2 linked regions of the Homo sapiens genome follow. The protein of the gene in region 2 interacts with the protein of the main gene of each other region in a pairwise test. Each region holds a gene or a part of one and is shown on either strand. Other genes may lie near its edges.

The links.
Region 1: the proteins of CALB1 (region 2) and TRPV5 interact in binary tests that used the Homo sapiens proteins (3 or more experiments, as listed by UniProt).

Annotation. Positions count from the first base shown.
Region 1 is NC_000007.14:142,927,099-142,943,676, forward strand, and holds the start of TRPV5 (transient receptor potential cation channel subfamily V member 5), read right to left. Parts: upstream 6,649-16,578; 5' UTR 6,362-6,648; coding exon 6,234-6,361; intron 3,349-6,233; coding exon 3,251-3,348; intron 3,083-3,250; coding exon 2,960-3,082; intron 2,468-2,959; coding exon 2,330-2,467; intron 2,023-2,329; coding exon 1,924-2,022; intron 1,769-1,923; coding exon 1,593-1,768; intron 1,137-1,592; coding exon 990-1,136; intron 1-989. Other genes in the region: sperm-egg fusion protein LLCFC1 precursor, read left to right, coding at 12,524-12,656, 13,254-13,489; KEL (kell blood group glycoprotein), read right to left, coding at 14,154-14,315, 15,336-15,431, 15,777-15,946, 16,178-16,245, 16,388-16,498. UniProt on the Homo sapiens protein: Constitutively active calcium selective cation channel thought to be involved in Ca(2+) reabsorption in kidney and intestine. Required for normal Ca(2+) reabsorption in the kidney distal convoluted tubules.
Region 2 is NC_000008.11:90,068,135-90,084,243, forward strand, and holds the start of CALB1 (calbindin), read right to left. Parts: upstream 14,746-16,109; 5' UTR 14,564-14,745; coding exon 14,485-14,563; intron 13,969-14,484; coding exon 13,892-13,968; intron 10,314-13,891; coding exon 10,239-10,313; intron 1,104-10,238; coding exon 1,020-1,103; intron 921-1,019; coding exon 864-920; intron 1-863. UniProt on the Homo sapiens protein: Buffers cytosolic calcium. May stimulate a membrane Ca(2+)-ATPase and a 3',5'-cyclic nucleotide phosphodiesterase.

The sequences.
Region 1 (16,578 bases), on a different chromosome or scaffold from region 2:
CTCTCTAAAAAGCTCTTTTTTTTCTCTCATCTTCCTGTGACTCCCAATTCTTCCTTGAAGATCCAGCCCCAGCATTTCCTCTGTGACATCTTCTCTGGTCTATCCAAGCCAAGTTAACTCTACCTCAATGTGGCTGTCTGCATGCATGGTACACACAACTATTACGGCATATGTCATGCTCTGTTGCAATTATTCAGGACAGGGACTGAGAATTGAGGAAGTTGATGAACAGGAACTGTGTTGTATTTATTTCTGTACTGTTTGTTTCTTGTGCAGTGCCTGACATACAGCGGGTGTTCAATATGCTTGTATTAGTCCATTCTCATATTACTATAAAGAACTACCTGGCACAGGGTAATTTATAAATAAAAAGGTTTAATTGGCTCATGGTTCTGCAGGCTGTACAGGTTCTGGAGAGGCCTGAGGAAACGTACAATCATGGCAAAAGGCCAAGAAGAAAGCAGGCACATCCTACATGGCCGGAGCAGGAGGAAGAGAGAGCAGGAGGAAGAGAGAGCAGGGGGAGGTGCCACACACTTTTAAACAACCGGATCTTGTGAAAACTCACTATCACGAGAACATCAAGAGGGAAGTCTGTCCCCATGATCCAATCACCTCCCACCAGGCCCCTTCTCCAACACTGTGGATTACAATTTGACATGAAATTTTTGCATTTGGACACAAATGCAAACCATATCAATGCTGAACCAATGAATGAATATGAGGAAACAGCTCTTATTTGGAGTTTCTCATCTGAAATGATAGAAGGCGAAAGGTAGGCAGAAGGGACTGGAGCTAAGCAGAGAGACAGGGGATTCAGGAGAGGAGTGTGCATTGGACTTTCCCCCATGTCCCAGGAGACTATTCTCATCTCCACCTATTATAAGGCTGGGAAGTGTCTCAGGCCCAGGATCTTAGTAAGTGGACAGACTCTGCACAAACACTAAATTCCCTCACATGACAGGCCTGATCCTCCTTGGCATCCATACCTCTCGTTTATCAGAGGAGACCACAAGCTCCAGGAAGGACAGCTCCTCTCCCCAGGAGTCGATCTCCGTGAGGTCGTAGAGAATGGAGGTCAGGGGTCCATACGTCCACTGGATGTGCCTCCGCTTCTGCATCAGGTGCTGGAACATCTGAGAGACCACCAGGATGAGTCAGGGGGCCAACGTGTGAGAAGGTGGTCGAGGAGAACAACTCCATTGGATGGAGCCAGTTGCCCACCCCTTGAGACAGACAGACAGTGGGAACCAGCAAACCTCTGCATCTACAAGCTTTCCCTTTTTTGTCATCTTTCCTGCTCCAAAACCCCAGAAAGTGCAGAAAGAAGAAAATAGGCAAAGGAAGCTAGAGCTTTGGGTTATCACAGCACATGCATTAAGGTAAGGTTCTCAAATCCTCTTGAGTCAAGGACCATGAAGCTGAAGATTTCAGTGATGGAATAGGAAGCAAGGGACCACCATCCCTTTGGGGAGTTTGGGGAAAAGGGATTTTAGAGAAAGGTGGGCCCTTCACCTCTATTTCTCCCAGGGCCAGCAGGATAGGTTGAGGGTCATTAGAAAGACACCTCAGGGATGGGGAGCGTCTCTTACCACAGTGTTACCCTCCACTCCAGCCAGCTTGAAGGGGGTGAGACCCTGGTGATTGGGCACAAGGTCCAGGGGCTGCAGGTGGTCCCCATGTCCATCATAGGACAGCAGCAGGTTGTACATCTGGCAGGCAAAGGTTTTGTTGGGCTGGAGGATGAGGATGTGTAATACTGTGTTTCCTGGGGAGGACGCAGGGTATCATGTGGCCACTGGCCTAAAGTCCCTGATGTCCCCATCCCCACTCTGGGGTCTTCCTAAAGGTCCCAGCTCCACTCCTTACCCTGTCCCTCGCTCCCCACAGCATCCCAGCTCCCCTCCCCATCCCAGCTCTTACCCAGGGAGTCCTGGGCCCTGATGTCAGCTCCATGCTCAATGAGCAGCCGCACGATCTCCTCGCTGTTCACACAGGCAGCAAAGGACAAAGGGTGCTCCCCTGTGGACACAGAGAGATCCATGGCAGGAGAACGCAGGATGGCAGGATGGGGTGGGCAGTCTCCCCCAAATAAGGGCCTCCTCCTCATCCCCCATATCTCAGTTCTAGGCTGAGGGACACTCGTCCAGCAGAACCAGAGGAAGGAACCATCAGGGGAATGGGCCTCTGGCTTAATTAAGCCCTAGAAGGGCTGCCCCTCTCAACTGCCCAACAGATGGAGCTGAAGGCAGGACCCTCATGCCCTGGCCTCCCTCTGCCTTGCCCGCCTCTCCAGCCAACCATCCTTCAAGCCCAACCCTGCTCTCACCAAAGTAGATGAGGTTGCGGGGACTATGGCGGAAGGCAGTGCCTGTGGCTCTGGCAGAGACACTGGCCCTGCGGGTGAGCAGGGCACGCACCAGGTTCACATTCTGGTTCACAACAGCGATGTGCAGTGCAGTCTGACCTGGCCCAGAGACAGCCATCATCAGGGTCTCCCTCTGTCCCCAGTTCTCTCAGGGACACAGCATCCCCCACCATCCCTCTCAGGAGGTTCCTGATAGATCTTTGCTAGACTTCTGCCCTGGGCTTGGCAGGGTGGCCTGGGACTAAGAGCAATTCATCCCTCAGGCTGCCCTGCTCATTGACCTACCCTTCAGTTATTGGGAGCCAGCAGGGGATTGCTATGAATATAATCATTCTCATGTTGCTATGAGAGAAAGAAATTGAGATAGGTCCTACAGGGACTATGGGAGGTTTGAAAGGAAATGCTGAAGGAAGCCACAGATTGGTAAAAGCCAAGACCAGGACCTTTGCATTTCTCCCAACTCAACGGAGCCCATCCTCCTGACCCTCCATCACCCCACCCCAACCCATCCTTCAGAGGCCAATTTTAAGAGACAACAGCACACCCTCCATCTCAAAGTTTCCACCTTGAATTACCATGTAGGCTCCTTACCTGCAAAAGCCTCACATGTGGTGGGCTCAAAGACCAGCTCTGGGGCAGCCTCCATCAGCACCAAGGCCGCCTCCAAGTTGTCATAGAGGGCTGCTATGTGCAGCGCCGTCTCCCCCAGGGCTCCTGGATTGGAGTAAGACAGAGATGTTAGACACTTTTCAGATTCCCTTGAGGAAGGGGCCTCAGGCTCCAGAGACACCCTCCAAGGCCCTATTTCACAAACTCGAAGTCTTGGGGAGGAGGAGTAGGTTCTTCTGCCCCCACCTCCATCCCATTAAATCCAGATCCCACCTCTTTGTCGAACGTCACAGGTGCAGTCCAGTAGAAGTTGCCTAAGAACAGACAGGTCATTTTCCTTGGATGCTCGAAGCAGTGGAGACTCTAGAATCCTGGGGAAAGGTGAACGTGAGTTTGGAAGAGACAGTCATAGCAGAATGAGGCCAAGAGCAAAGGGGATCTAAGACATTCTTTAAGACCAACGTGACTCACACAGCGTGCAGTGACAAATTGGAAAGAAGTGCCTACTGGACTCGAATGACCGAGGGTGGACTTGGGCAAGGGTCAGCCCCAGGGCCTTCCTTGCAATTCACATCATGGTGATTCTCCTGTGAGGATGGCCCTTGAAGCTCTGCTGGAGGGGAAGAGTTAATAGGAAGAGAACCTGTAGTCTGGAAAGAGTGGTCTGAGAGTCTCTAAGAAGAGGACCCTAGGCTTGGCTGAATTCATCTAACCTGAGTAACTGTCTCAGATCCTGGATAGTTGGAGAGCGGGACAGAGGGCACTTCCATCTGCGGTCCCCCTGCTCCTGGGCCTGCTGAATCTACTGTCTTTAACCAAGGGGAGTTTGGGAGACCAAAACACAGAGGGAGGAGGAATGGATCGACTGCTAGATCTTTCCTAGGCATTTTGAAATTTGTGAAATTTGTGAGGCACTAAAGTTCTGACTACTCCCTCAGGCTATTTTTTTTTTTTTTTTTTTTTTTGAGACAGAGTCTTGCTCTGTTGCCTAGGCTGGAGTGCAGTGGTACAATCTCAGCTTACCGCAGCCTCTGCCTCCCAGGTTCAAGCAATTCTTGTGCCTCAGTCTCCCGAGTAGCTGGGATTACAGGCACGCACCACCACGCCCAGCTAATTTTTTGTATTTTTAGTAGAGATGGGGTTTTGCCATGTTGGCCAGGCTGATCTCGAACTCCTGAGCTCAGGCAATCCGCCTGCCTTGGCCTCCCAAAGTGCTGGGATTACATTGCGCCCAGCATCCTCAGGTTATTTAGATACAGGTCCCTGCAGGGGGTGGAGAGTTGTGGGGTGAGTTACAGGGTGCCTCTTTCTTCTGCATTATACCCTTAGATGCAAAGGTCTAAACAGCTTGTTTATGTGGGTGTCTCAAGGCAAAACAGGTTGAGATACTCATTCTACAGGACCTCTGTTAATCTTTGCTTCTACCATACCCAGATTTGAACCCAGAAAGAGATAAAGCTGGAGCCTCTCCAACTAGACATATGTGTATTGGCCCCAAAGGCAAGCACATGGTGTAGGGGGAAGAACAGAAAGGACAGGCCGATGAGTGGCTCCTCTGAGGTCCCCACCTCCAAATCCCTCTCTTCCAATAGCCCCAGGAGCCAGGGCGAAAAAGTGTTTTTATTTTATTTATTTATTTTTTTTGAGACGAAGTCTCACTCTATTGCCCAGACTGGAGTGCAGTGGTGCGATCTCGGCTCACTGCAACTTCCGCCTCCTGGGTTCAAGTGATTCTCCTGCCTCAGCCTCCCGAGTAGCTGGGACTACAGGTGCCCACCACCATGCCTGACTAGTTTTTTTATTTTTGGTAGAGACGGGGTTTCAGCATGTTGGCCAGGCTGCTCTCGAACTCCTGACCTCAGGTGATCCACCCATCTCGGCCTCCCAAAGTGCTGGGATTACAGGTGTGAGCCACCACGCCCAGCCAAAGTGTTTTCATTTAAAGAAGAAGCTTTTAATCTAAAGGTGGGGCCTGGTTTTACCTGTTAAGGCAGTGCTCCTAGGAGGGGCCTTTGTGAGGAGTCAGTTCCCTGCCCCGTCTCACCCAGGGAATCAGTCCCAGGGAGCCTGGTGTCCCTGACCAGCCTAGAGTGGTCAGGGCTGAGATTGCAAATTCACCCCCATCCTGAGGCCACTGCACAAACAAAGTCCTTGCCTCCCTGGCCCTCTATCCCCACTGCCCCTCTGCAGAGGGTCCAAGTTGGGGCTGGAAGCTCACTTTCTCAGAGACCCAGGGGTCCCACTCTAAAGCAGGAAGGTGAGATTCCACTGGAGGTATTGGGTGGGGAGATGAGGAAGCAGAGGGCTTGACAGTATGAGGGCTCAGAGGTACTTGGGACCAGGCCCAGTGTAAACTGCAAATGCAGGACCCCTTGTTCAAAATTATTAAGAACTTGAAGATGAGGACAGCAGGGCATTGAACAAAGCACAGGAATCTTCTGGAGTACAGGGGAGCCCTTTGTGACTGCTAATGTCTGCTCAACAACCTCACCCCTCAGGCAGCTGTTGGGTGGGAGGCAAGCCCCAAAACACTTGGAGGAAGAAGCAGCCCACAGGATTCGTCCCTGCCCCAGCTGCTCTTCCTGGGACTGGACCTCAGGGCTAAGCCATGAAATGATTTACCTGCAGGTGTGCTAGCCCTGCCCGAACTAAGAGCTCTCCAGGAGCAGGCACAAGTCTCATTCAATCTTTATGTCATTGGGATCTAACACCCCTCTGCACACAGTAGACTCAATAAAAGGCAGATGGACTGAACTCAGAGCCCTCCAGTGTCACCTGAGCTGCCCTCCTCCACTGGTCAGCACCCAGTGTTACACCAAACAAAGCGCTCCTCCCCTTTCCCACACAGTCCACTTTCATTCAAATGAATGGCGTTTCCTTATCGTGCTTCCACCACCCACAGGAGTGCATCCCTTCTTCAGCAGCCTGCTTCTGCCTTCCCTCCCCATCCCACACAACCTGGCTTCTTCCCTCTGGTCCTTTTTGGTCCTTTCACTCCCCCTTGGCTGTCATTCTGCCTCTGTCCTTAGGTCTACCCTCAAGATTTTCCTGTGTGGCCCAAAGCCACATCCTCCACCGCCACTAAAAGGGGCCAGCTGGGATTCTGTAATTAGGTGGGCTGGAAGGAAAGGGTATGTCTGAGTGACTGGCACTGACAATACACTTCTAGGGTGCTGTATTCGGAAAGCAGGCCCAGGTGGGTCAGAGGGTCTGAGGATCACGGCGGTAGGGCCACGGATCGTTCTAGGAAGCCTACCTCTTCTGCTGCAGCATATGAAGCTTGTCCAGGTGCTGGTCCCAGTCTTGTTCTCTGACCAGAAAGGAGGGCAGAAGTTTCTGGAGTTGGCTCCCGGGCCCTTCTGCCTTAGGTAGAAAACCCCCCATGTCTTCTCCTTGCAGACACTGGCAGATTATAGAAATGTGGCGAAAGAAACAGGTCTAGGATGACAGCAACTGAGCAAGAGATGGGGTCTATTTGGGGCTGGGACTCTGAGTTTATCTCCTGTATGACTTGTGTATGCAGCATGCAGCTTGTAGGTGTGTGTGTGTGCATGCAGTATGTGGGTTGTGGGGTGTGCGTGTATGCACAGTGTGTGGCTGTGGTGTATGTGTGTGCATGCAGTGTGTGGTTGTGAGGTGGTGTGTGTGCATGCAGGTGCGCTGAGGGGACTGACCGCCCTGCCTGGGGAGAAGTGCTTTTCCTGGAGGGGGAGGAGCTCTTTGCAGAGCTGAGCCCCACAGCCACAGAACCACCCTGGGGAAGAAAAGGAGGAGGGGAAGGAAGGTTCCTAACTGTGGGCTGGGATGGCTGAGACCCGAGAAGCTAAGAGGTGGGGCAGAGGAATTTGGAAAAAGAAAAGGGATGGAAGGTGGGTCCACAAACAAGGTGCACAGTTAGTTGCATGAGGGAGAGGAGGAAATAAAGACTTCCAGCTCAAGAGTCAGGCAGAGCCTGGTTCAAATCCTGACTCTTATCCCTTACAGTTAGGTGAGCTTTCTGAGCCTCAGTTCCTAACCTGTGAAATTGGGGTAACGGCTATGCCGTCTCACGGGAGCATCTGTAAAGCATGTGTCACAAGTACTCAATCACTGCCGATCCTCCTTCCACAAGAGGGCTCAAGAGACCCCCGGGCTGCTTCTCAGAGCTTCCCATTTATGTGTCTTGTGGTCATCTCTGTCCTCAACCCTGTACCTCAAAGGAGGGTTTCTGACCCCCACTTCCCAGGCCAATCCCTCTCTGTGAGAAGTCCTCATGACCGTGACCGGCCAGCTTCCTGGAGCGTCGCCGAGCAGGCTCTGGTACCTGGGGACGCAGGTCAGAGGAGCCCCCAGGGGCCTCGAGTTATTATGGAGGTTGAACAGCAGAAACTGAGCAAAGGTAGACGACAAATAAATCGTGATTCCATGTTTGGGACTCTTTCCAGGAATGAAACACCAGGAGGAATAAGTAATGTTGCACTATTTTATATATTTTATATTATATTTTATATATTAAGTAGTTTCCCTTATCCACAGTTTCACTCTCTGATGGTTCAGTTACCTAAGGTCAGCCACAGTTGGAAAATAGGTGAGTACAGTACTATAACATATTTTGAGAGACAGAGAGAAAGAGAACATTCACATAACTTTATATTATTATAATTTTCATTTTATTGTTGTTAAACTCTTTTTTTTTTTTTTTTGAGACAGAGTTTCACTTTCGTTGCCCAGGCTGGAGAGCAATGGTGTGATCTTGGCTCACTGCAACATCCACCTTCCAGGTTCAAGTTATTCTCCTGCCGCAGCCTCCCTAGTAGCTGGGATTACAGGTGCCCACCACCACGCCTGGCTAATTTTTGTATTTTTAGTAGAGACAGGGTTTTACCATGTTGGCCAGGCTAGTCTCGAACTCCTGACCTCAGGTGATCTGCTTGCCTCGGCCTCCTGAAGTGCTGGGATTACAGGCGTGAGTCACTATGCCCGGCCTAAACTCTTCACTGTGCCTAATGTATAAATTAAACTTCATCATATGTATGTATGTATGTATGTATGTATGTATGTATGTATGTATGTATGTACGTGTAGGAAAAAAGATAGTATATACAGGGTTTGGTGCTATCTAAGGTTCCTGGCATCCACTGGGGCGTCTTGGAATGTATCCCCTGAGGATAAAAGGTGACTACTGTATATGATAGCTTGTATTTATGTTCTCATTTTTTTTATTATTATACTTTAAGTTCTAGGGTACATGTGCACAATATGCAGGTTTGTTACATATGTATACATGTGCCATGTTGGTGTGCTGCACCCATTAACTGTCATTTACATTAGGTATATCTCCTAATGTATCCCTCCCCCCTCCCCCAACCCCACGACAGGTCCTGGTGTGTGATGTTCCCCTTCCTGTGTCCAAGTGTTCTCATTGTTCAATTCTGTTCTCATTGTTTTCAAAGAGGTACATCAATATTATTGAATTGCATTCACTCAATAGACCTATCAGGTAAATGAGAACAAGGAAGAATTCCGTCTGTGAGAATTCTTGGGTGTGCTGGCCCCAAGTCCCATGGCTAGTGGCGAGACTGTAACTGGCCATGAACTTGGGATCTCAGCTCCAAACCACTCTCCAGACCTTGTTGCTTCTTGGGAATCTTTTGGCTGTAAAGGTGTGAGAGACCAGCGTGAGGATACGCTGGGACTCTCCCTCTGGGGGTCTTGAGGAGTGGGGACTGCCCCCTTCTTTTGTTGTAAGAAAGAGAGATCTGCTCCCAAGATTGAGGGATGGACAAAATAACCTTTAGAGAAGGACAAGAATTGAAAGGAAAATAAATAAGGAAACTAAGAGGAGCTAGTGTTCATTGATGTTTCAAAAGGGGGAAAATTTGGATCTTTTTCTTATTAAAAGCCAAAAGGAAAAGTTAAGTAAAAAAAAAAAAAGATACAGTGGAATTATGTTCTCACTGGGAGTGGGGAGGGCTCAACTTGTGGGACATTTTTCTGCCTCGCTGGGGGTGACGCCCTTGTGGAGTGACTTCCAGTCTAAGGAGATGGAGGGAGCGATAAGGGTGAGGTGGGGGTTGTAGATGCCTTGATAAGCGAGGCAGGTCAGGAAAGGAGCACCTGCCAAGGAAACTACAACCCATAAAGCTGGTCCTGGGGCGGGGGGGTTGGGACATGGGGGGCCGGCAGGGGAGGAGGCTGGCCCAGTCTGAGCTGCACAGAGCAGGTGTGCAGGGACTTGCCGCCAAGGGCATGTCCAGGGGTCTGGGGAAGAGAAAGGGGAGGCCCAATGCTCAGGCCCCCCCACCCGCCATCCCTGGGCCTTCGCCCTCTCACTTGCCCTTCTCTGCCTACCTCGTCCTCTCCAGTGGGAAGGGCATGGACAAGTAACCTGGGTGAGGACCATGGTGTCCCCCGGCAGTCCCAGCTGGTAGACCAGAGATTTGGAGTCTCTCCTGTTCTCTCCTTGCCTTCTCTCCAGACTGTTTCTTCCTCTTGTGATATTCGACATCACCATTCTATTTTTCCTTTTCTCTCCTTTCTTTTCATGCCTCTCTCAGCTTTCTGCAAGTGAGGACATCTGCAAACTCTCGCCTTCAGAGAGCAGCTTCCCTGCCACTGATGAATGGTCAGTAATGCCTCCAGGCACTCGGGAGAACTGGGCTGGGGGCACCAAACTACACCGTCAAGTCCCAGAACCCTTCACGCCAAAGCAGCCTGACCTCTTATTCTAACATAATAAAGAGGAGGAGGAACCATAATACCTAGATTTCCATTTTTAAAAATTACACTCCCACCCTACGTGGCCACAGCCATCTACGAAAAGGATTCAGGGCCGGATGCGGTGGCTCATGCCTGTAATCCCAGCACTTTGGGAGGCCGAGGCGGGCGCCTCACGAGGTCAGGAGTTCGAGACCAGCCTGGCCAACATAGTGAAACTCCGTCTCTACAAAAAAAAATTAGCTGGGCCTGGTGGCAGGCACATGCAATCCCAGCTACTCAGAAGGCTGAGGCAGGAGAATCACTTGAACCCGGGAGGTGGAGGTTGCAGTGAGCTGAAATTGCGCCTTTGCACTCCAGCCCAGGCAACAGTATGAGAGACTCCATCTCAAAAAAAAAAAAATAGAAAGAAAGAAAAGGATTCAAATACCATACCTTAAAACTAACTGTGGCCAGGCGCAGTGGCTCACACCGGTAATCCCAGCACTTTGGGAGGCCGAGGCGGGCAGATCACCTGAGGTAGGGAGTTCGAGACCTTCCTGACCAACAGAAAGAAACCCTTTCTCTATTAAAAATACAAAATTAGCTGGGTGTGGTGGCACATGCCTGTAATTCCAGCTACTCGGGAGGCTGAGACAGGAGAATCACTTGAACCCAGGAGGTGGAGGTTGTAGGTGAGCTGAGATCGTGCCATTGCCCTCCCGTCTGGGCAACAAGAGTGAGACTCCATCTCAAAAAAAAAAAAGTGATTATCACTGGATGGTGGAATTATTAGCCTTTTTGGGGTTTTGTATTTTTCTATATTTTCTACTTTGTAATAAGAAAAAATATTTAAGGGATTCCCTGTTTTCTGCAAGAATTTATCTCTTTTAACACTGCGGAGGTCAGGCGGGTGGTGGTGGCAAGGAAATGGAAGTAATGGAAACAACTCAGTTATTTCCACTCAAGCCTGCCCGGGAGGCAATTCTCACCCCAGCCGCCCTCCCCATTCATTCCCACAGAGCTGGAGATGGCTTCTCTTTTTGCCAGGAAACCAAGAGGCTGCTCCCCCAAAATAGCCAGGAGGGAGGAGATTAGTGATGGTTTTTTCCATTCAAGCATCATTCTTTGGATCTCACGTCAATGGGTTCAAGGTGGGGTGAGCAGGGTCACCTGCCTACTTGAATCTTTCCTTACTCACCTTCAAGCGACCTCCGTACCACTCCCTAGTCCCTTGTCATCTGGCTTGGACCATCAGGAAGTGTGTAAGAGATGGTGTCTGCTGTATGTGAGACAGCATCCATGTGGGCATGTCTGCTAACACGAGTAAACTCTGTGGGAAAGCATCTCTTTGTGTGTTTCTGTCTGCAGTTCCCTCTTGCAGAAAGGGTGCCTGTCTCCGCAGTGTCCTTGGACCTGCATGTGGTATTTCATTCAGGTCTGGTATGCATGGATGAGCAGGAGCAGTGTGAACTGGTTATGAGAGTTCAGGAGTGACTAAAGTCTTCTCTTACCTGTCTTAGCAGCCATCCTGCATCTAATGGCCTATGTCTCTGTTGCTGGTTTTCGAAAAAAGGCCTTCATTCTGTCTCCCTAACTCACAACCCTCCAACCATCTCTGCCCAAGAAGCAGTTGGGGGTGATTACCCACAGCCGGTTACTGCCAACAGATCTGTGCTCACCAGGCTCATGGGCAGGAGGCGCATCCAAGTACTGAGGCAGGATTCTCCCAGATCTGTTATTTGGGATCCTAGACTCCCTGCCGCACTGCGGCTTCTCTGCAGACTCTAACTCCTTTTGCCAAGCAATGAGGTTGGAGATGAGCCTCTAACAACCTTTTCTTTCGTCTAAGAGTACAGAAAGGTGTAAAATGAAAGAAGAGGGTGTTTCAACCTGGTGGTACAAGAGGACAAAGGCTAGAAAAGTGGGAAAACCAGGGGAGGGTGAAGAGAGGGTGTGAATGGGCTCTACCAGCTGCAAGGCACCCTGCTCTTTGTCTCTCGCTCTCTCTCCGTTCACTCTCTCTTCATCTGTCTCTCTGTCTCTGCGTCTCTATCTCTCTGTCTCTACCCCTCAGTTTCTGCCTGTCTCGGTCTCTTTCTTTCTCTCTTTTTCTATGTCTCTGTCTGTCTCTGCCTGTCTATGCCTGTCTCTGTCTCTGTGTCTTTTATACACACACACAGCATGTGCTTTTACCCATCCTTACCCTATGCTCCTCCCCATCTTTATTTTCTGGCAGACCCATGCTTCATGTAGAGCAGCATGTTCATACCCACGACTTGAGAATCCTGTCCGGCTCATCTGTTCTGGGCCTCATCCTATGCAAACCACTCTTGTTACAGAAAGGCCACATAGAATAGTGGGAAGATATCATATTTAAAAGTAAAAGTTAATCAAGAGTCCTTTTCTGCCCCTTAGTATTTGGGCGATTTTGAGTGAGAGAGTCATTTTTTCTGTGAGCCTCAGTTTCCTCATGAATGTAATAGATATGAGAACACTATGATTTTGCAGTCCTGGTTTCTACGTGGATCTAATGGTGTAATGGATATGAATGTACATTGCAAGCTGTTAAGTCATTTCTGCTAAATACAGAATGACCCACTGTGGTCATCTTGGAAGCCTCGGCCATCCCTGCTGGCTGTGCTCCATTCTTGTGCCTCGCCATTGGAACGCTCTAGTGAGCCGGAATGAAGTTCAGGCCCATGGCTGTGATGTCACAGAACATGTGAAGTCAGAGGTCCTATGGAAGGTGAGGGGAGAAAATGCCCCTGGAAAGGGTTAAGGGCCAGGACAGGAATGGGGCAGGAGGTGCACGGATCCTGCTGGGCACTGGGAGCAGGGGGCGGCCAAAGGCAGTGGGTGGGCAGGTCCATGCCTCCCCTGGCCCCCCAGCTCTGCAGGGCAGTGTTCCTGGTTCCTATCTTGCTGCTGCTGCAGGTGAAGCCTCTGAACGGGAGCCCAGGCCCCAAAGATGGGAGCCAGACAGAGAAAACGCCCTCTGCAGGTAGGTGGAAAAAAAGACAGGAGCCATACAGAGAAAACACCCTCTTCAGGTAGGTAGAAAAAAAGACGGGAGAGTCTGGAGGCTCAGGGTGAGGTCTGTGTGAGGCCAGGCCCCAGGTCACTGATGAGGCTAGGGTGAGACCTGACATAGGTCTGGTTTATGGGGGGTAACTCCAGCCACTGATGGTTATCATGTGAAATAATAGTGTCGGCTCACCATGGGCCAGCTGAGCTTGCATGCAACTTCTGTGTGTGTAAGCATGGTGCATTTGGCTGGCTTTTGTCATGCTTCAAGGTGGCCCCTGACTCCCCCAGTGTTGAAACCCTAGAGGAGGCAGCTAACCTTAGGAATGGTGTGTGTGTGTGTGTGTGTGTGTGTGTGTGTGTGTGTGTGTGTGTGTGTGTTTGAGTTGGGGCTGTGATTGAACACAGACCAGAAAAAACCTCTAGAAAGAGCATCCCCTCTCTGGTGAAGGCTAAGGATATGGGCAATTGGGACTGCAGCCCTAGGCTTCAACGTGTTTTTCCTATTCTAACTTCTCCTTTCTGGTTCAGGCCAGGGTCAGGGCTCAGTCCTTGTCCTTTTCCCCTGTTCCAGACCAGAATCAAGAACAGTTCGAAGAGCACTTTGTGGCCTCCTCAGTGGGTGAGATGTGGCAGGTGGTGGACATGGCCCAGCAGGAAGAAGACCAGTCGTCCAAGACGGCAGCTGTTCACAAGCACTCTTTCCACCTCAGCTTCTGCTTTAGTCTGGCCAGTGTCATGGTTTTCTCAGGAGGGCCATTGAGGCGGACATTCCCAAATATCCAACTCTGCTTCATGCTCACTCACTGACCCTCCCTCCCTCCTGGGCTCCAGGTCACAACTCCCAAAGGAGATGCAGGCATGGCTCTCTGCCTCTGATCACCATCACTGTATCTCAAGGTTCAGCAGCAGAGATACCAGTTGCCATCAGTGCTAACTGACTGCCTCTCCAGGTTCGGAGTTTCATCTCCCAGGGCCAGAGACAGCAGACCCACATCCTTCTCTCCCACACCTCTCCTGGTTTTGTTCAGGACAGCAGATTAGAGGCAGGAGGCAATGACAATAAAATAACGATAAAATCCTGAGAACAATTGGGAGCAGCTTTCCGATACTTAATCCAAGCCCTTCTCGTCTCCAACTAGACTGCTTTATTGTCCAATCTTTGGTCCACTGGGTGGCCTTCAAACCCACCAGGTCACCAATTGTTGATTCTTTCCTTTTCTTGTGTCCATGAAACATTTTTGGCATTTCTCCCTCTTATCTTTTCTAACTTCAGGGTATTTTTCTCCCGTACAGTTAATGACTTCCAGGCATAGAACATAGCAGGAACAAGTCATTAAGAGACAAGCGGAAGCCAAGTGCCAGCTTTTATTTTTGGAACAGAAGCAGAAAGGAAATCTTGCTCTGATTCCATGGATGTGACCAGGGAGGTGTTGGTCGATATTTCTGTGCTGTGGCATCTTTGGTAACCAAGTTACCAGAGCTGGCAGCGGCTGGAGGGGTTCAAGAGAGCACCACGTGCACAGCGGAAATACCTGGCAAAGGCTGGGGTGCTGCTGAGGGGCCCGTGGACTCGGAGGTGTGGAGGGCTGTGAGTGTCGTGAGAGTCCTGGGGGCTGGGCTTCCTACACATCACCTGAGCAGGAAGAGAGGTCATTGAAGGGGGAGGGTCCACAGGACAAAGCTGACCCGGTGACAAGGGGTGATCAGGGACAGCAGACAAAGAGGGGAACCAGGGGATCAAGTGCCCCAAGGGCCACATGGAGCATTTGAAATGTATAGTTCATTTAATCTGGCAATAGGAGTCCAGGAGGAGGGCCTGGGCTGTGTAATGATACCATTTATCAATGACAGAGAGGCAGGGTCTAGCGCAGGAGCTCTGGGGTGAAGTCTAATCTAAGCGTGTTGAAGACCTGGCACCTGAGTCTGTTGAGGGAGTACAGGGTGCTTAAGGAGGTGATGTCAAGTGGGCGCCACACCTAAGGTCAGGTGTCTGAAGAGGAATGTGGCACACAGTCAGCCTGTCGCAGGCTTTTTTTTTTTTTTTGTGAGACTGAGTCTTGCTCTACCACCCAGCCTGGAGTGCAGTGGCATGATCTTGGCTCACTGCAACCTCCGCCTCCCAGGTTCAAGCGATTCTCGTGCCTCAGCCTCTCAAGTAGCTGGGATTACAGGCGCCCGCCACCAAGCCCAGCTAAGTTTTGTATTTTTAGTAGAGACGGGGTTTCACCATATTGGCCAGGCTGGTCTTAAACTCCTGATCTCAAGTGATCCGCCCACCTCGGCCTCCTAGAGTGCCAGGATTACAGGTGTGAGCCACTGTGCCCAACCACAGGCTCATTTTTAAGGCATCTGTATTTTGGGGGTATGAGAGGAAAAAAAAGTTGGTCTCCTCCTCTCCTGGAGGAACTTGGGAATAGAGTTTTTTCTACCTTTTGAGTTGTGGGGGTGCTGAACTAGGTAGAAGAACCTGTAGTCATCTGAGGGGTGATTCCAAGGGGTAGGGAGGGAAGAGAAAAGATAACAGTGAGGACATCTGCAGAAGAGGGTTTGGGGTATTTGACGGAGTGTCTGAAGAGGGGACTTCCATGAGCTTCAGTAATAAGGCGTTCAACTGACATAAAGCAAGCTGTGGCGGGAGGTGGCCGCTGCCTACCTGGGCATAGCTTCGAAAGAAGATCTGCTGGGGGCTGAGGTCCAGGCTGGGCAGGACAGTCTCCCCATGGTGCCGTAACAGCCTCTTGCTGTATGCCTGGGTAGGGGTGGGTAGAGAAGGGCCATCAGGCTCTAGACCTGTGGCCATTTGAAAGTCCCTCCACACAGTACCCAAAACCCATGGCCCTTGCTCACTGGTTCTGCACTGACTAGTTGATCTGAGCCAGAAGAAAGAGTACTTCCCAGAAGACCTATAGATGTCCTAAAATGGAGGATCTCTGGGGTAGGAGGGGGATCCCCAAGTTGCCGTCTATTCAGTGGGGATGCGAAGGGCAGAAAGCCATGCAACTGTACTTGTGTCAGGAATGGTGGAAGGAAAACTTGAGGACATGTTTTCTAGTCTGCCAGTACACATAAACTGTGGCCCTTGACACTTGCATACCTGCAGCGCGATGGCTAGCCCCCCAACGTCTGCAGCATTCTCTAAGAATGTGAGGGAGTCATTGAAGGAGGTTCTGCTAGGTAATGGAAAGGCAGCATAATGGCGCTTCAGGCACAGGTGAGCTTCCTGGAGGGCATGGTTGTCACAGGCGAGGCAGCCCCCAGGCAGTACTGTTGAAAATGGGACAAGAGAACATACAGCAAGAGAACATAGGGTTGGTGCTGCCTAGGTGAGGATGTGGGTGGTACCACAGACTGAATCAGCTCCCAGGAGCATGGCAAAGTTCCCAGGACTGCCCCACCTCAAACCCTCAAATAACCTCCCTTTCCCCTCCAGGCCTCCCTTGTGGTCTTCCCTTAGGTTCCCTATTATCCCACCTCCCAGTGGCCCCTGTTACCCACAGAGCTGGTAGAAGATGTGCAACAGCTCGTGGGCCATGATGCTGCCAGCAGCGCCAAAGTTCACGGCTCTAGGGAGACAAGGGCTTATTTGACCCCCAGAATCTCTCAGCATTTGTGACCCCAATTCTCCAACCGTAAGTCCCATCCATCATAACACCTGTCGGCCCCTCTTGGGAAACTCCCTACCTACCCTTACAGAGTGACCCATACCTGGGATAGCCAGGGTGGAAGAATGGGGGTTGGAGGAGTCCAGCTGGAAAGACTACCACATGGTCAGATACCGAATAGTAAGCATTGACGTCCCAAGGGGACACCTTCCACCTGTGGGAAGAGGACATGTGAACTCCAGCCCCCACCACGTATTGCCCTGCCACCCTGAGACCTACACAGTCCCTCCCAAC
Region 2 (16,109 bases):
TAATATAATTTATTTTATGTTGCATGTCACAAAAGCTTTCATGTGCAGAATCTTACTGGAGCTTCACAATAAGCCTGAGAGGAAGGATTTATTACACTCATTTTAAAGATTAAAGAAAATTGGAAAGATATAGTAATTAATGAGTTAAGACTTGATTTCAGATCTCTGCCTTTTCCTTTATATCCTCCTCTGTGATATCCGAAGTGATAAATTCATTCTCTAAGTTGCAGTTTTTCAAAAGTTTAATTTTAGAAGATTTTTTATTTTTTATCATCATTGCTGAGAGTCAGTAGGTTGTGTAGAATGTCTACAGGCCTTGGAGGCAGACAAGCCTGGATTTGCACATCAAGGCTCTGTCCGATTTCTGTGTGGCCTTCAGTATATCATTTAACTTCTCTCAACTCTTCCTCAATGGGGTAATACAATGTCATACAACTTACGCAAAGATTAAATAAGGCATTATGTGTAAAGTAGTTGGCATACAGTAGCTATTCAGTAACTTTTTCTTCTTTCTTTTGTAAGAAAATTTATATATATATGTGTTTATTTTGAGAACTAAAACTACAAATTTCAATAAAAGAATGGCTTATTCGGCTTATCTATAATTCTATCTGTCTGTCTGTCTTATATTTGTGTACACCACAAAAAATGTTAATTTTTTGCATTACTGTACAGAATTTCCAGAAGCAATTGAAGATGCTTTTTTGATCTGGTACTTCATTAACAATGTCGAAGAGTAGGTGAAAATGTGACACTGTTCAACATTAGTTTCTTTTGTGGGAGGTTTTTTAAAAAGCTAGGAAACTCTTAGTTCATAATTGCATCTGAAAGGAAAAACTTAGTACAAGTTTTTATTTGCTTACCTTAAGCTCCTCAGTTTCTATGAAGCCACTGTGGTCAGTATCATATTTTCTCCATGTCTGTAAGTAATTTTGGATAAGGAAAACAAACACATTTTTAATAAAAGGAACAATTTTCCTACTTTAAGCAGCTTTCTTAAAGGGGCAGCTTTCTTATACCTTCATGAATTCCTCACAGGACTTCAGCTGCTGGCATCGGAAGAGCAGCAGGAAATTCTCTTCTGTGGGTAATACGTGAGCCAACTGGAAAAGATTTAAGAAGAGAGAAACGTGTTGTAAGTTGCTCAAAAACAAGTCTCTGCCATTACCTGCTGCTTAGTTTTTCTTCAACGTGTTCCCTCACAGGCTAGAAAAGTAGGAGAGGAAAAACATTAGAGTCGGCTTTCCCTTTCTGGTACTTTCCTATGGAGCGCTGTCGATTCTCCAACGCTCGTGTGCCCTTGTGTGCTTGGTTCTTTGGCCAGTGAGGTGGCCGCAGCAGACCTGTGCTCAGGTAGAACTAGCGTGGCCACTTCTTGTCTGCTGGACATTCAGGCAGATTCATCCTCGTGGCTTGAACCCTTCAAGTGTTCTATGCCACAGATTAGTGTTCTATGCCTCTCTCCTCTCTCCTCACAGGGTCACAGAAAGGCACATGTGGGGGCCATAAATTTCATGTGAAGTGAAAGAAACCATGAGGAACATAAATGTTGGGGAGGGGAGTGAAGGGGGAAAATGTATTCCCAAGCCCGAGGAGAAAGCCTACCATGAGATACAAGAGAAGATAAACCAAAGACAATCGTAAGGCAATGGAAAAGAAATTCACCATGAATGGTGGGGCGTTAAACAGGAATAGGAAAAGCCAGTTCTCAAATTGTTGCTTTCTGCTGAAAGGACATCCACTGCTTGAATCCAGGGCTGGGGTTTATTTTCTGATCTCCACGGCATGCCTCTATGACATTTTCCCTTAGATCTCATTTCAAAACTTCAATCCTCCTCTCTTTTTTTTTTTTTTGGAAGAAAAAAGGATTCCATATCCCATTTTATGACTAATCTATTGCGTACAGAGAAGGAAGGAGCTGGATTGATGGCTCCACTACAGATGTGAGATCTATTTCTGGCACAGTAGCTAATTAGCTGTGGTCCCCAGCAACCCCGAGCCATTTCTGGACTTCAGTACCCTCATCACTAAAACAAGGACTTGAAATAGAAGCCAGTGTTTCTTGAATATATTGGGTTCAAAACGCCTTCTGTTGGAAGCACTGCATTTTCACCATTAAATAATGAATCTACACACACTATATTTCATCTAATTTCCAGGATTTGATGAATTCCCTAGATCACGGGCATGGACGGACCCTCATCCGTGGATTTTAGGCCAACAGCCTGTAGTCTAGATCAGCCTTAAAGTCAGAGTCAGTTCTAAAAGTTCTACCAAGTTATAGAAAATACTATCATAACTTTTTTTAAAAAATTCATCCTTTTAGGTTCATTTAAAAATTTAATATTTAATATAAAATGCACTATTCTACTTTATATGCAAGGAATCTAATTTTTCTTATGCCTGTGTATGCCCTTTAGCTTATCTTATGTTTAGATTTTTGAAATAATATTTCAAATTAAAACCACTCGATTTATACGCACCACACATGTGGGTGAGACTAAGGGAAAGGGCCAAACCTTATGTCAACATGTTTAATATGACCTAGTTATAAAACATTTTCTTATTTATTTTTAAAGAAAGGTCACTAGTGTGGGTAGATGATAATATATCTAAAAAGTAAAAATGGGGGTTTATAATGTGCCAGTGCTTTTAAAAAAATGTAATTAGCTTTTGGTACATAAACACATTTGCATCATTGCAGTGTGTGTGTGTGTGTGTGTGTGTGTGTGTGTGTGTGTGTGTGTGTTATCCAGGTCCCTTATTAAACTCAGGACATACTTCTGTGACCTTTGCATTCTTTCAATTCCTTTGAATACTTGAATCATAAAATTCTATACCTCAGAAATAACATAATTTAATTTAATTCAAGACCAAATTTTTCAATTGAGGATGCTAAGGCCCAAAGAGGTTGAATGATGACCTGATGATTGGCAGACTGAAAATCACTTTAATTTGGTGATTATTAGTAGATTAAGTCAACAACATGCTTGTTGAAGACAGTAATAGAGTGGTTTGGTTGCTTCTTTGCTCTTGGACTGCAAATAATGAATTTGTTGGTGATTTTTACACGTGACAATGAGATAGTTTAAATATGATAAGCTGTTTCTACTCATTGAAATCTAGAACACCATTTTCCTTATAAAAATCCCTTTTTTTTCCTCATCTGTAAGTGGGCTCCTAGTGGAAAGTAGCTATAAATGATTTTCATTATAAAGTATCCAGATATCTGGTAAGTTAGGCCTAGAATGTAGGTCTCCCCCCAGAGCTAAGGGGGAAGAGGAGAAGGGAGGGAGAATGGCAGTGGGTGGGCTCGGCATGGAGAGGGGCTCTGGAGGACGGAGAGCCACACCCCTCCAGTCTTGTTGAGCCTGGCCTCTTCTATAATAATACTTTCCTGGAGGGATTCTGAAGAATATCTCCTTGAGGATTTTAAAGAAGATGGGAAGAGAAGAAAAAGTAACACAAGAAAGAAGAGGGAACAAAGATGGAAGACAATAAAACACATCAAAGAGAAGAAAATATATCAGAGGCAGACATTTTGAGGGAAAGATTGAACAATGGAAATGGATGTTATGTATACATTTTGGAGGGTTCTGCATGATATAGAAGGTCTAGCCACATTTTATTATGTTTTTTTCATGAATATAAGTGTTCATTTAGGAAACAGGAAATAGCTAACCCCAACTCGTCCTTTATTTATTAGTATGCAACTTGTTAGATACTTCTTACAATTTTTGCGTGACCTTCCTCTAGACCATTAATTTCAAGAGGGCAGGGAATAATACTTTTCTGCATCCCCTGAATGCCCAGCATGGTATCTAGCATGTTATATGCCTGAAATAAATGCTTGCGGATTGGTTGGTAATTTTACTTTATTAAAAACATCTACTTAAAAGAATTGAGTTATTTTTTGCTTATCTTCATCATAATTCTCTATTTTGTTTGGATTTTTATAATTAGTGTGTGTTGCTTTGAACAAAAAAGAATAATTTTTCTTTAAATATTTTACATCTCCAAATTCACTGAATACATAAAAACAGAAAAAAACAAATGAATGAACTAGTAAGCAATCACTAAATGTAAAATTAGGGAAATTGCCATCTTTGTTTCAACATAAAAGTTCATGTAACTCACATAAAGTTGAGAGGTCTCCTGAATGTCAGATACAGAGATAGTAAAAATGCTCTTCATGTCTACTATAAATGTGTATTTCTTGCCCATACTGCTTTGGTTTTATACTTAAATTATTAAAAAATACAGATTACATCAATGTGCAACATATTCAATCTGTTTTAATTTCACTGAACCATTAATGTTACACTCAACATGATACCATCCTATTTTATAAATGTTAGAAAGGAGTCTTAAGCATATAAAAATTATTATGTGTATATAGGATGTGGCTATAGTGAATGTAAAGAAATCTTTCTTAAGATATGTTTCACAATGTGGTGGTCCTGTGTTGTCTCTCGGTTCTTCTCTCAATGCGTATGAATCAATATTCAAGTTTCAGAGCTGGGCACAGTAATTCTCCAGCTGTAGCCTTTATGACTATGTCTATAATGTGCCAAAGGTCTTTCATATAGGAGGTGTTAAGTAGAGTTGCTTTATTCTCAGATATGCTAAGTCACTGCTGTTTATAGAAGTATCCAATACTTCTTATTACAATATTATTGGTGATTCTGTAATCTTTGGGCTGCCTGCCTGCTCTTTTATGAACTCCCAAAACTTTTTTATGAGTTGGAAAAGAGAGTGAAGAATATCAAGGGGATGAGTGGAAGGCAGGTAGCTAAGGAAATAAGTAGAATCCCTCAGAGCTTCATTTCTGAGAACTGATTGCTTGTTATCAAGAGTAGGAAAAAAAACCAACAACTTCCTACTTGCTTGTCTCCCCTACTAGTCTACGTGCTCCTTGAGGATGGGGTCTGTGTCTTATTTACTGTTTTGTGGCCCAGAAACTGCACAAATTTTAGTAAATATTTTATTGAAGCAATATATAAAGGTAATTAACTATTTGTTTAGCATCAGGATAGGCTGTAAATAAATGGAGGTAAAGTTCCTTTGGAGATAATTCCAATAACTTATTACTGAGCTGTGAATAGGGGTTGGGGTGGACATTGTGATATGCTACCCAGAACTCCCTTCAAGTGCTGGGAGTGTTGCTGCAGCCTCACCTGTGAGGCCCCATTGAAGGAATACCTGGGCTGAAGACAGCTGTGTCCCCAAGGAGGTGGCATCCTATGACTGATCAACATGGGGATATAAAGGCCCAACGGTCTCACTCAAAACTAGAGACATTCCTGAAGGGTCATCCCAGCTTCAGAACTCACTGTAGGGTCAGCTGATGTCCCCGTTGAGACTGTGACACAGCCCAGCTTCTCCCTCTGCCCAGATCTATTCTCTTCACTTCTGTCCCGGGGTATTGATCCCAAGAGCACTTCCTAATAAACCTGCTCATTGCTACTCTTCCACTCAGATCTGCTTCCCAGGGAACTCTACCCATAACAGGGGACTTTACATCTCTCTTTTATTTCTAGCGTAATACAGAGACTTTGCCTGATGTTTTGGAGTAAGTTGAAATCCCTTGCTGTGGCTCATTTGGCTACTAAATACTAGGCACTGTGCTGGTGACCACAGTCACCACTAGTGAGAACCATATAGGGAGGCAGATACTTTCAAACAACTTTTCCCCTGACAATTTCAAAGCAGGAGATAAAAACAACAATAAAGCTAAGTACTAGTTGTGAGGAGAGTATACATGAAAGGCAACTTCATTAGTGATACAAATTATATCACAGTGCACATGAGGCAGAATTCCTAACTTTTAAAGACAATCATGGTATGTTAACATTCTTGAACATGTATTAGCCAAGCATTCATTTTTTTTTTTCACTTGAGAACCAGAAAAACGTTTTCCCTAGCCAGTGAGAAGTGAGTCCAGGAAATTTGAAAGGTAAATAACTTTATCAAAAATGTAAAGCTCTTTCAGTTTAATAATTTGAATTTGACAAATTATATAATAAGTGGGGGAAAAGGCTTGGCATTCAGAAGATGGGGTCGATTTTGTAGTAAGTTATTTTTATATGTAACAATAACTGCAAATACATTTGTTGAGTTTTTACAGTGTGCCAGGGTCAATCTACTTGTTCAATATGTATTATTTGATACTGATGATCATAACAACCTTATGAAGTTAATACATTGTCATCCTTGTTCACTACCAAGGAAACAGAGGCTCAAAGAGGGTAAATGGCCTGCTCTCACATAGATTGCAGTTGGAGCCAGATTTGAAGGCAGAGTCTGACTTTCTTGGCTTAGAGACTCTGTCCCTTACCTTCATCACCCTCCATTAAAATCCTCAATCAAAAAAGTATCCCTAATAAATCACTTAGAAAGATCTATGCAGAGGGAATTTTAAAATCAGATTTCATTGTCAGTCATTTCCCAAAATTCTGTGGTGGAAAAGTAGTCTTCCATGAAAAATTATATTCACTATGGCTAAACTCACAGGCTCAAATCCCACTGCAGATGAAAAGAGGGAAAGGCTGGAGAAGAGCTTGCTTCCCTGGGAGGGTTGTTACAGTTTTAGGACTAAAATAGCTTTTAGGTCTGTTTTTCAATGGATGCACTGACCTGGACAGATAGAAACAGTAAGAATGGAGAGGATGGTAGGTTCTCACACATTGCCAAAAGGATCAGGTGAAAAACTTACAGATTTGACACCCATTTAAGAGAAATACCTATATTTCATGTGAACACCAGAGAAGAAAGCTCTATTATCTGCTAAATCATTAAGTCTTCCTTTTTAATTATTTTAATCAGCCTTCTTTGCAGTAGAGCTATTAGTCTGAATAAATTCGGAACATTTTTTTGACCATCACATTATTTGTTAAATTATCTCAAAATTTCGATGCTCCTGTCTTGAGTTTGTGTTAACAATCTCGTTATTTCTAAACTGTATTTGTGTGGATTTTTAAATCTATTTAAAGGCAAGAAATTAGAAAGTTCAGAAAGAAACATATTTGTTTCTAGGTAGCAAATGCATGTTGTTAGAAAGTGTCAGCTAACTTTGTCACGTTAGAACTTTGAAAGTTAACCATTACATTTTCTAATCTTTTTGAATGACATCTTTCAGAGACAAACCAATTTGGCCTGTTCCATCAGGGACGCAGACCACTGCATGAGTATCATTTGGTTTACTTTGATTAGATTTTGATGAGTTTGTGAGTATAACTATTAAGTAAGCATAACATATAAGTAAATCCATCTTCCTTTCCCTTTGAACACCAAAGTTAATGTGTGCTTGATGTCAGTAGGTAGATTATTATAAATTGTAGAAAACATAGGATTTTGCATTCCTTTATAGCTGGCTAGAATTTGTGTATTTGTGTTCTATATTATTTATAGGATTTCTAAGCAAGTGATATATGTCAAATTGGAAAAAGAAAGGATGAACTTCATTTAATACAGCTTTCTGGTTACAGTAGAGAGCAAAATATAAGTTCAGACATTTCCTACTCTCCCTTTCCACATTTTCTACATGTAATCTGTAACTTTTAATTTCTATTTCCCAATTATTTTCAGAATTTCTCTTTTCTTCACTCTTAACCATCACACAGTGAACCAACATGCATATGAACTATTGAAGCAATCTCCTATTTTTCCTCCTATTCTCCATTTCTCTTCTCTCAAACTAATGCCCTCTTCCAGACCCCTTACTCCTATGTCTTGGCTGATAACTAAGATTAATGAAAAGAGTTCTAAAATCGGAATGAGATCTAAGTCTGTATATAGAATTTGTCACTCCCTGCAAATGGGACCTTGGATACATCATTCGACCTTTTCGGGCTTCAGTTTCTTCATCCTTAAAATAAGGAATGTTGGCTAGTTCTTCCCAAGAGTCCCATCTAGCAAAAAGTTCCATGTCCTGGAACACTAAAACCTTCCAATCAGTTTATATGTATCTCATTTGTCTCCCTTTAAATTATTTCTGCTTCAGCTGATCAAAAGTTCTGCTGAAATTATGTTTCGAGTGCTTTGCCCAAATAACTTCTCTGCAGAACACTTTGTGCATCCCTATTCATCCCAGATAAACTTAGAAACTTGCCATAAGTAATCAACCAACTGAAGCTTGAAAAGTTTTCCTTTTAATGCAGAAAATGTACAGATTATTTATTATTTTAAAAAAGGCAGAATAGTTTGGGGGAACATGGCTGGGTTCTGACTGTTCTACCATTTATTTCTTACTTTTTCTGTGACCTTAGGCAAATCCTATTGAAGCTTCACATGCTATAACTATAAAATAGATCTTCATTTTATATTTAAATTTACTTAATTTTCTAGTTATGATGATCAAATGAGATAACATATTTGAAAACACTTTGTCAATTTTATTTTATACAAATGTGAATTATTTTATTATTTTTGTTGCTATAAAAGCTTCTCACTTCTTTATTTCAGACTTCATCGCCTTCTCTGTCCTCTTCTGTTACCTATATTTCTATATCTTTCCTTCCACAGAAAGCCTTTTCTTTCCTGTAACAGTTCCTTATCTAAAACTTCTGAGGAAATTTCCTTCATTAAACCTCCAGGACAATGCGTCTGCTAAATGGCCTCTAACCTCTCATTCAAAATAGCGCTGAAATAATAAGTCATAAATGATTAGACTGTATCACATAAAGTAAAACCGGGATTCAAAACATGCTCATCCATTTTATCCTTATAAAAATGTAAAATCCATGTGAATCAGATCAATGCCTTTTACTGCACAATCTAGTATCACTGAAGAAATGAAATTGAATAAATAGCTGAGTCCATTGGACTCCTTCAAGGAGAAGTATGTTAAATGTAAGGTGACAGGTTTTCCTTAACTAGGATTATAAAGTATGTCAAACTCTAAAAGAGCCAATCCGTAATTTCACTGATGTCATATTTCCAAACTAGTTTTGAATAATTAGATTTACCTCATCTCATTTATGTTTAATTTAAAAGTTATTTTCTTATCCTTGATGGTTTCATACCTTGATTAGTTGGCCTATATGTCTATCTGTAAGTCCCATTACTATTATCTATTTATATAGTAATGAGTTACACACGGGTAAAGGGGAATGTATGTACTCCAGGGAAAATTTTTAATTACAAAGATAATAATAGTATGTCCTCTCTTAACTCTATTTGTATCAGCTGTTTAAAAATAAGTGTATTTCACACTGGCATCACAAGTGTCCTATAAGATCAATTATTTGAAAACCAGGTTATTTTTCTGAATCAAAGGTAAATTATTACTAAATGTTGTTGAGATCCAGAATACTTCACAATCTAATACACTGAGAAACACTATATAAATAACATAATTATGTTATGATTTGGCATATTTCAAATTATGACCTAATTAATTTTTCTGGACAAAGACTTCCACCCAATTTCTCTAATAGGCTGCTGAGATAAAGAAAGAGGCTAAGACACCACAGGCTGGAAACGTAGATATAAGGGAAGCAACAGCTCTTTCACAAATCTGAGAATGCAGAAGAATTGATGCATAATCAGTTTTGCTTCCTTGATTCACAGACAAAAATAAGTTGCCCTTAATAGGAAAAGTCACTGTGAAAGGATAAGATGTGACACCCACAGTTTTAACTTTCAAAGATTCACATGAAATCTGTACCTATAACAGATCATAAAATATTCACTCACTCTAGTTAAATTATTCTGTTTTTACGAAGGCCAACTGTCAAACCAGGATGCAGCTTTTTGCCATGAAAAATAAGGACTGTAAATATTTCACAGGGACTGCAAACATTTTATTTTATATTTTAAAAGTCAAGTCTACACTGTTAAGTGATAAGAAATACTGATGGACCATGTGCTTAGACACTGTATGGAAGTGGGGCTGGGTAATGGAATGTGATTGATACTCATGTAGAAGTCAGGGACTTGTTCCTCTAACTGCACCTGTGCCAGCAAATAGCTGTATGACCAGAGGCAAACAATTTTGTTTTTCCATGGTCTCAATTTTGTAATATATGAAATTTAGGCCCTGGGTTAGGAATACTCTTAGATGTTTTTCATTTGTGAACATTTTTTAACTTTATACTTCTGAACAGAAGATAATGTATTACTTAGGTAAAATAAACTGTACTGAATGGGTCTTGCTATATCTTACTTGACTTGAAGACAACTTCAAAATTGAAACTCATTTATTAAAATTAAATCAGAAAAATGCATAAATTCCTTACCTCTACAATTCCTATTTTTCCATCATCTCTTTGCCCATACTGATCCACAAAAGTTTTCATTTCAGGTGATAACTCCTAAAATTATATAAAAGCAGGTAGGAGGTTTGTTAAAAAAATACCAGTTATGCTTGTGATGGTGTTAATAACTTACTGCAAAGAAAAACCAAAATTAGAACCATTTAGAAATATGCATAATGATTAACTATTCTCAAAAAAATTAAAGGCATAACTGATACACAGTATTTATTAGTTCCAAATGAAAGAGTTGTAATCATGATTATTTCTCAATTAATATGATTTATCTTCTATTATTAATTTTGAGACTATGCTATCCTTTGAAAGTGTAGTCAGAATCATTCCATTCATAACTTTTAGTGAATTTTAACATAATCATCACCATCAATATATTTTAAACAATGCTTGCTTCATTAAAGATTACCTTATATTGCTACACTATCTTGTCTTACAACATTTTTCTCATTCTAACATAATGTTTTATCTATGGAGAGTAATATATGTTTTCATTTTGAACAAGCAAAAAATGTGAATGTTAAAGATTAACTCACTTTGTAAGCAAAGATTGTTTTAAGCATAAAAGAGGCATTCATCAATTAAATAAATTTAAAAATTAAATAGATTAGAGAGCTATGAACTATAAACTAGTGATCTGAACATAGAACTGGTATTCAGGAGGTTTAATTTTTACCCTTGGGTCTCCAACATAGCCCATTTAAAATAGCCCTGTTGCATTAGCTGAAGCCTATTTAAAATAGGTCAGCCCTTACTAATGTTCTATTCTACGTCCTTGGGAAAGCAAATTAAGGTCTCGGTTTTCATCATAGCTAACAAGATGGTGGTATTATCTACCACACAAGTTTGCTTTGGGGATAGATAGGTTAATATAATTAAAGGGCTATATTGAGACTAAATATCATTATTACTAGTATTTATAAAAGCCGTTTGGAACCAATGTAGACATCTTTAGTTGAACTAAGATAATAAATAATAACAAAGCAATATAATTATATTTTAGTCTTTATAAAACTTACTATGGATAAATTACAATTTGTATTTATCTAATTTTGTTATAGAAACAATTGTAAGAAAATGAAAGTGTTCAACCATGGCAATAGTGGGAATATCAGGTCCTACAGTTTTTTTATTTTTACATACATCTTAACGTAAACAAAAACCAAAGCATCTGTCCTTAAATTTTAAAATGGTGTAATACCACTACTTTCACGAGCAGACTTGACATTTACTTTGTGAAGTTTCTGACAAGTATGTCAAAATCTATTTTTTAAACAGTGCAAAACATATAATCACCACCAATTAAAAATGTATAAAAATGAGTGCAACTACAAAGACCAAACACTATGTTTAGTGTAAAAGGATAGTTTCTGAAAATATATTGCATTGTTATATTTAATTAATGTTATATTCACCTAGTGAAAATTTTGAAATTTCATGTTATTAATACGAAAAGCCAAACAATGTTTCCATTAATGCAATGAAATCTGTTATCCTATGGCTAGAAATGCAAAAAGCCTGGTTTATAAGGGCAATTTTTATGTTCTAAAGAAAGAGAAGAAATATATACAAGTAGGTTTAATGCAATGAAGTTAGTAGTATAATGAAACATGTATCTACTATATGAAACTCTGAATCCACATCTTGATTTAGATTTTAACTACCCAAATCAAGAAAAATACTAAATTCAGAAAAATCCAGATTGTATTTACATTCCAGAAAAATGCTCAAGAATCAAGGTATTAAGCAACTTGATATAATCCTATAACTATGCTTGTTTAGTATCATTACATTATAGTCTAATAATTGGAGCTTTGAATATTCCAAAACAGAGAAAAATAATTAAATTCTAAATCTCCAACATGAAGATATTGCTTACAAAAAGGTACAAATATTAAAATCAGAGGAAGAAAAATATTTTTTTAAAGTTCATGAATATTTAAATTTCTAAGCTGAAAATAGATTTCAATATTAAAATTACTTCTGCACAAAATAAAATATAATCATTACCTGCTGGAAGCATCTTCCAAGGTTTTAATTCTAAATTTTATGGAAAGTAAGACTTTTCCAACCTGATTTTAAAATATGTATTTTTAAATGAGGAAGATAATTGCTTTTATTAGATTAGCCAAAGATATATAAAGCTATAATGACAGTATTGCATAAATTTATTTACATGGCAATATATAAGACATGGGGAGGGTGGAGAGTATATAAAACATTTTTATGCTATTTTATTCCGTTCTATTATACTTTTAGATTATATAATATTAAATCTGGGTAAAACAATCCCTAGAGCACAATCTGGTTTAAAATCAATTTGGTCAATGATTTTTGTAACTGATAGTTCTATAGTGCATTATAATACATTTAGAGCCCTCTGGGATTCTTTTGAATATGCTGTACAGAAATGTATATTACACAATTTTCAATTTAGATAGGGCAAAAAGTTCTATTATTAAATTTTATATATATCACTCAATATTAGAGGTGGTGATCTGCTATATAATATATACATCATTGGTAGTGTAAAATCTCTTTCTAAACGTAGTCAAAAAGGCCAAAGACCATTAACGTGTAACTCATCCCAATTCAACACTGCCTTCTGAAAGGCAGTGTTACATAAACCTCAATAGAGTAGTACAATTTTTAACCCATTTTCCTCTGGACAACCATCTCATCTATGTTTAAAAGCTGACTGTATTTTATATTTATGCTGACAACATATTTTCTTAACAGGTTAATTTATGCCCAAAGGGAGTCATTTATAATTAATAAGAATGGTTATTTGTTTAATTAACTAATGGCTTAAATAACGAACATAGCCATTTTCAAAACACCATCAATTGCTGCCCATCAGAGTATCACTTTGCTTTTTTTACAATACATGAAATTCTTAAAATTGTTTTACTTTTTACTTCTCTACCTTTTGGGTTTCTTGCTTTCAACAGAAATGAAGATCTTTTCTTGCTAAATTCTTTCTCACTGTTAGGTTGCAAGTTGGGCAACTTACCCTTAGTGAGGACAAGATGTTTTCTCATCTCCCCAACTACATCAACATCACAACAATAATAATTGGTGATAGAGTAAGAGATCCATAATCTGCAGATCTGTTTCTTGACCACCAAGGGGCAGAAATGCATTTCCACCCCCTTATTTCTCACACAGTAAAAGAGAATTTAAAAATTACCTAATCAAACTCAGTGGTAGAGGTGGTGATCCGCTAAAGAATCTCATGCACCCACAGTTCCCTTTTAAGACCTATTAATGCAAGTACTAGTATAGAATATATATATATTTAAAGCTCCAGTTTCAGATAGCAAGGTTTTTCCCTTTAGAAAATCTGTCTCTCTCTGTCTGTCTCCCTTTCTCCCTTCTTCCCTCCCTTCTCTGTCCCTCCCTTCTCTCTCTCTCTCTCTCCCCCTCTCTCTTTCTCAGTCTCTTTCCCCTTTCCCATTTCTCTGTATTCGAGTTGGAAAAGTGTTTTTTCTTGCCTTTCGCAGTCAATAAACGTTTACATTACCCAGAAAGCGCTTTACGCTACTGGCTTTTTGTGAAAACACAAGAATGTTTTAATTTGGGGGTTAAAAGTCTTTTTTTCTTTTTCGCAAACTTGAACCTACCAATCCAGCCTTCTTTCGCGCCTGCTGGAGCTCCTGGATCAAGTTCTGCAGCTCCTTTCCTTCCAGGTAACCACTTCCTGCAAAGACAAAGAGGCACCCAGGTGTCAGATATCTCATTCCAAGTGTCTTTCCCGTTCACTTTCCAAGACAGTTATCTTTCTGGCGACCCGAGAGGCTCTCTCTTGCCTGGACGTTGATTAACCAGCAAAGTGTACAGACGGTGAAGCGCTCCCCTCCTGGGGTATCAAACTTTAGATCCACTGAGGACAAAGGAGGATGGTTGGGGTGCTAAGCGCAGCCACAGAAACTTTGGGGGGGCAGCATTCCCCAATCCCTGCTCTCTCTCTCCTACCATTACCGTTCCTGGAAAGACAAAAGTTTAAGGTTTTGGGATTACGGTGGAAACAATATAAACTTTCAGGTTGACAGTTTGGCGGCCAGTCGGGGAGATAAGAAGATAAGATTAGGCAGAAGGGGGAAGAAGTAAAGAATAGAAAGGAGGGATAATGGGATCAGGAGGCTCAGAAAAGGGCAAAGAATGGGAAGGGGCATGGAAACGGGTCTTGAAACAGTTAAAAAGAGAAGATAATCACCGTCAGCGTCGAAATGGAGCCAGATCTCGAAAAACTGTGAGGCTGTGATGAGGGATGACTGCAGGTGGGATTCTGCCATTGTACAGCGGGGTGTGTGTCTGGGTGTGTGAATATGCGTGTGTCTGTGTCCGCGCGAGGGGGAGTGAGCAAAAGCTCAGCGTGTGCGCGAGTCAGGGCTGCGGAGGGAGACCTGGGCGCGGGCGCTGCCGGGCGCTGTCCTCGGTGCTGCTCAGCTCAGCGTTCCTCCAGAGTTCTCTCCCTACACCCCGCACCCAGTTCTCAGTATTTATCCCGACGGCCCCAAGCCGGGCCACGCCTCCTCCAGCCTCCCATTCCTCACTCCCCGCCTCTTGCTCTCACCAGCCTTCTTCCCCTCCCTTCCAGTTTTCTGCTCTGTTCCCAGGAAAGCTAGCTGGAGCGAGAGTTTGGGCTTGTTGGAAGCAGCAGGTGGTGGGAGATCCTTTGCTCAGAGATTGGATGCTGAAAACAGAGGCTCATTTCCCCCTACATCCTCCTAGTCCAGGAAGAATCTTATTCCTGAATATTATAGTAAAACTCTTGTTATCTAGAGAGGTTTAAATGTTCAGATAGAAGGGGAAAGCTGATGACGGGTAAAATCACATAAAAGATTATTATATTCTTGTGTGATTTCTCCAAGACTTTTCAGTATTTGTTTGAAAAAAAAAAAGCATGTGAAACCTTGGCACGCATTAGAATAATTTGATTAATGTATACAATGAGTTGATTGCTATCAATAATCACTCTATTTTGTGCCATCATGTCAATGTTTCTTAAGATGGTTTCTATGAACTAACCTTGCCAACACGAAAAAAGCTAGATTATGGATTTCTTTTCAGCATGAAGTAGAATTATAATTGGAAAGTAATACAGTTAAATTATAAAACCTTAAAATCTTAGATAAGGAAGTCATCTTACAGATACTAGAGTTTACTGCCTTTCAGTTTAGAAGGAGTGAGTAAACTAAAACAAAGAGAAAGGAAGGATCTGACCAGGTTCATAAGTAGGTACGTTAGTGCTACCACCACAGCCCCATTCAGTCGCCTTAACACACACGTCTCCTTCTTTCTGTTTCAAGCAACCCCTACTGGAGAATTTTTCAGAAATTGGAAGTCACCATCAGAGTTGGAAAAGCTATCTAACTAAATGTATGCTATGTTATGTATATATATATATATATATATATATATGTAATATATATGTATGTATACACACATATGTATATATGTTCTGTACTATATATACATATGTATATGTGTTATGTATTTTAATATAATTAATTATATACTTGGATTATTTCTTATTTACATAAGTACTTCTGGAGTATTTGGCTTTGAGTCTTTTGGACCTTGAAGTCCACTAAAAATGTATCCCAAAAGTCTAATTACAATTGTACTAAAACAAAATGAAGGAACAAGAGAAAATCTACACATAGCCAATATAAGCTTAAAGTGAATTAAAATGAATTTACCGGCCGGGCGCGGTGGCTCACGCCTGTAATCCCAGCACTTTGGAAGGCCGAGGCAGGCAGATCACAAGGTCACGAGATCGAGACCATCCTGGCCAACATGGTGAAATCCCGTCTCTACTAAAAATACAAAAATTAG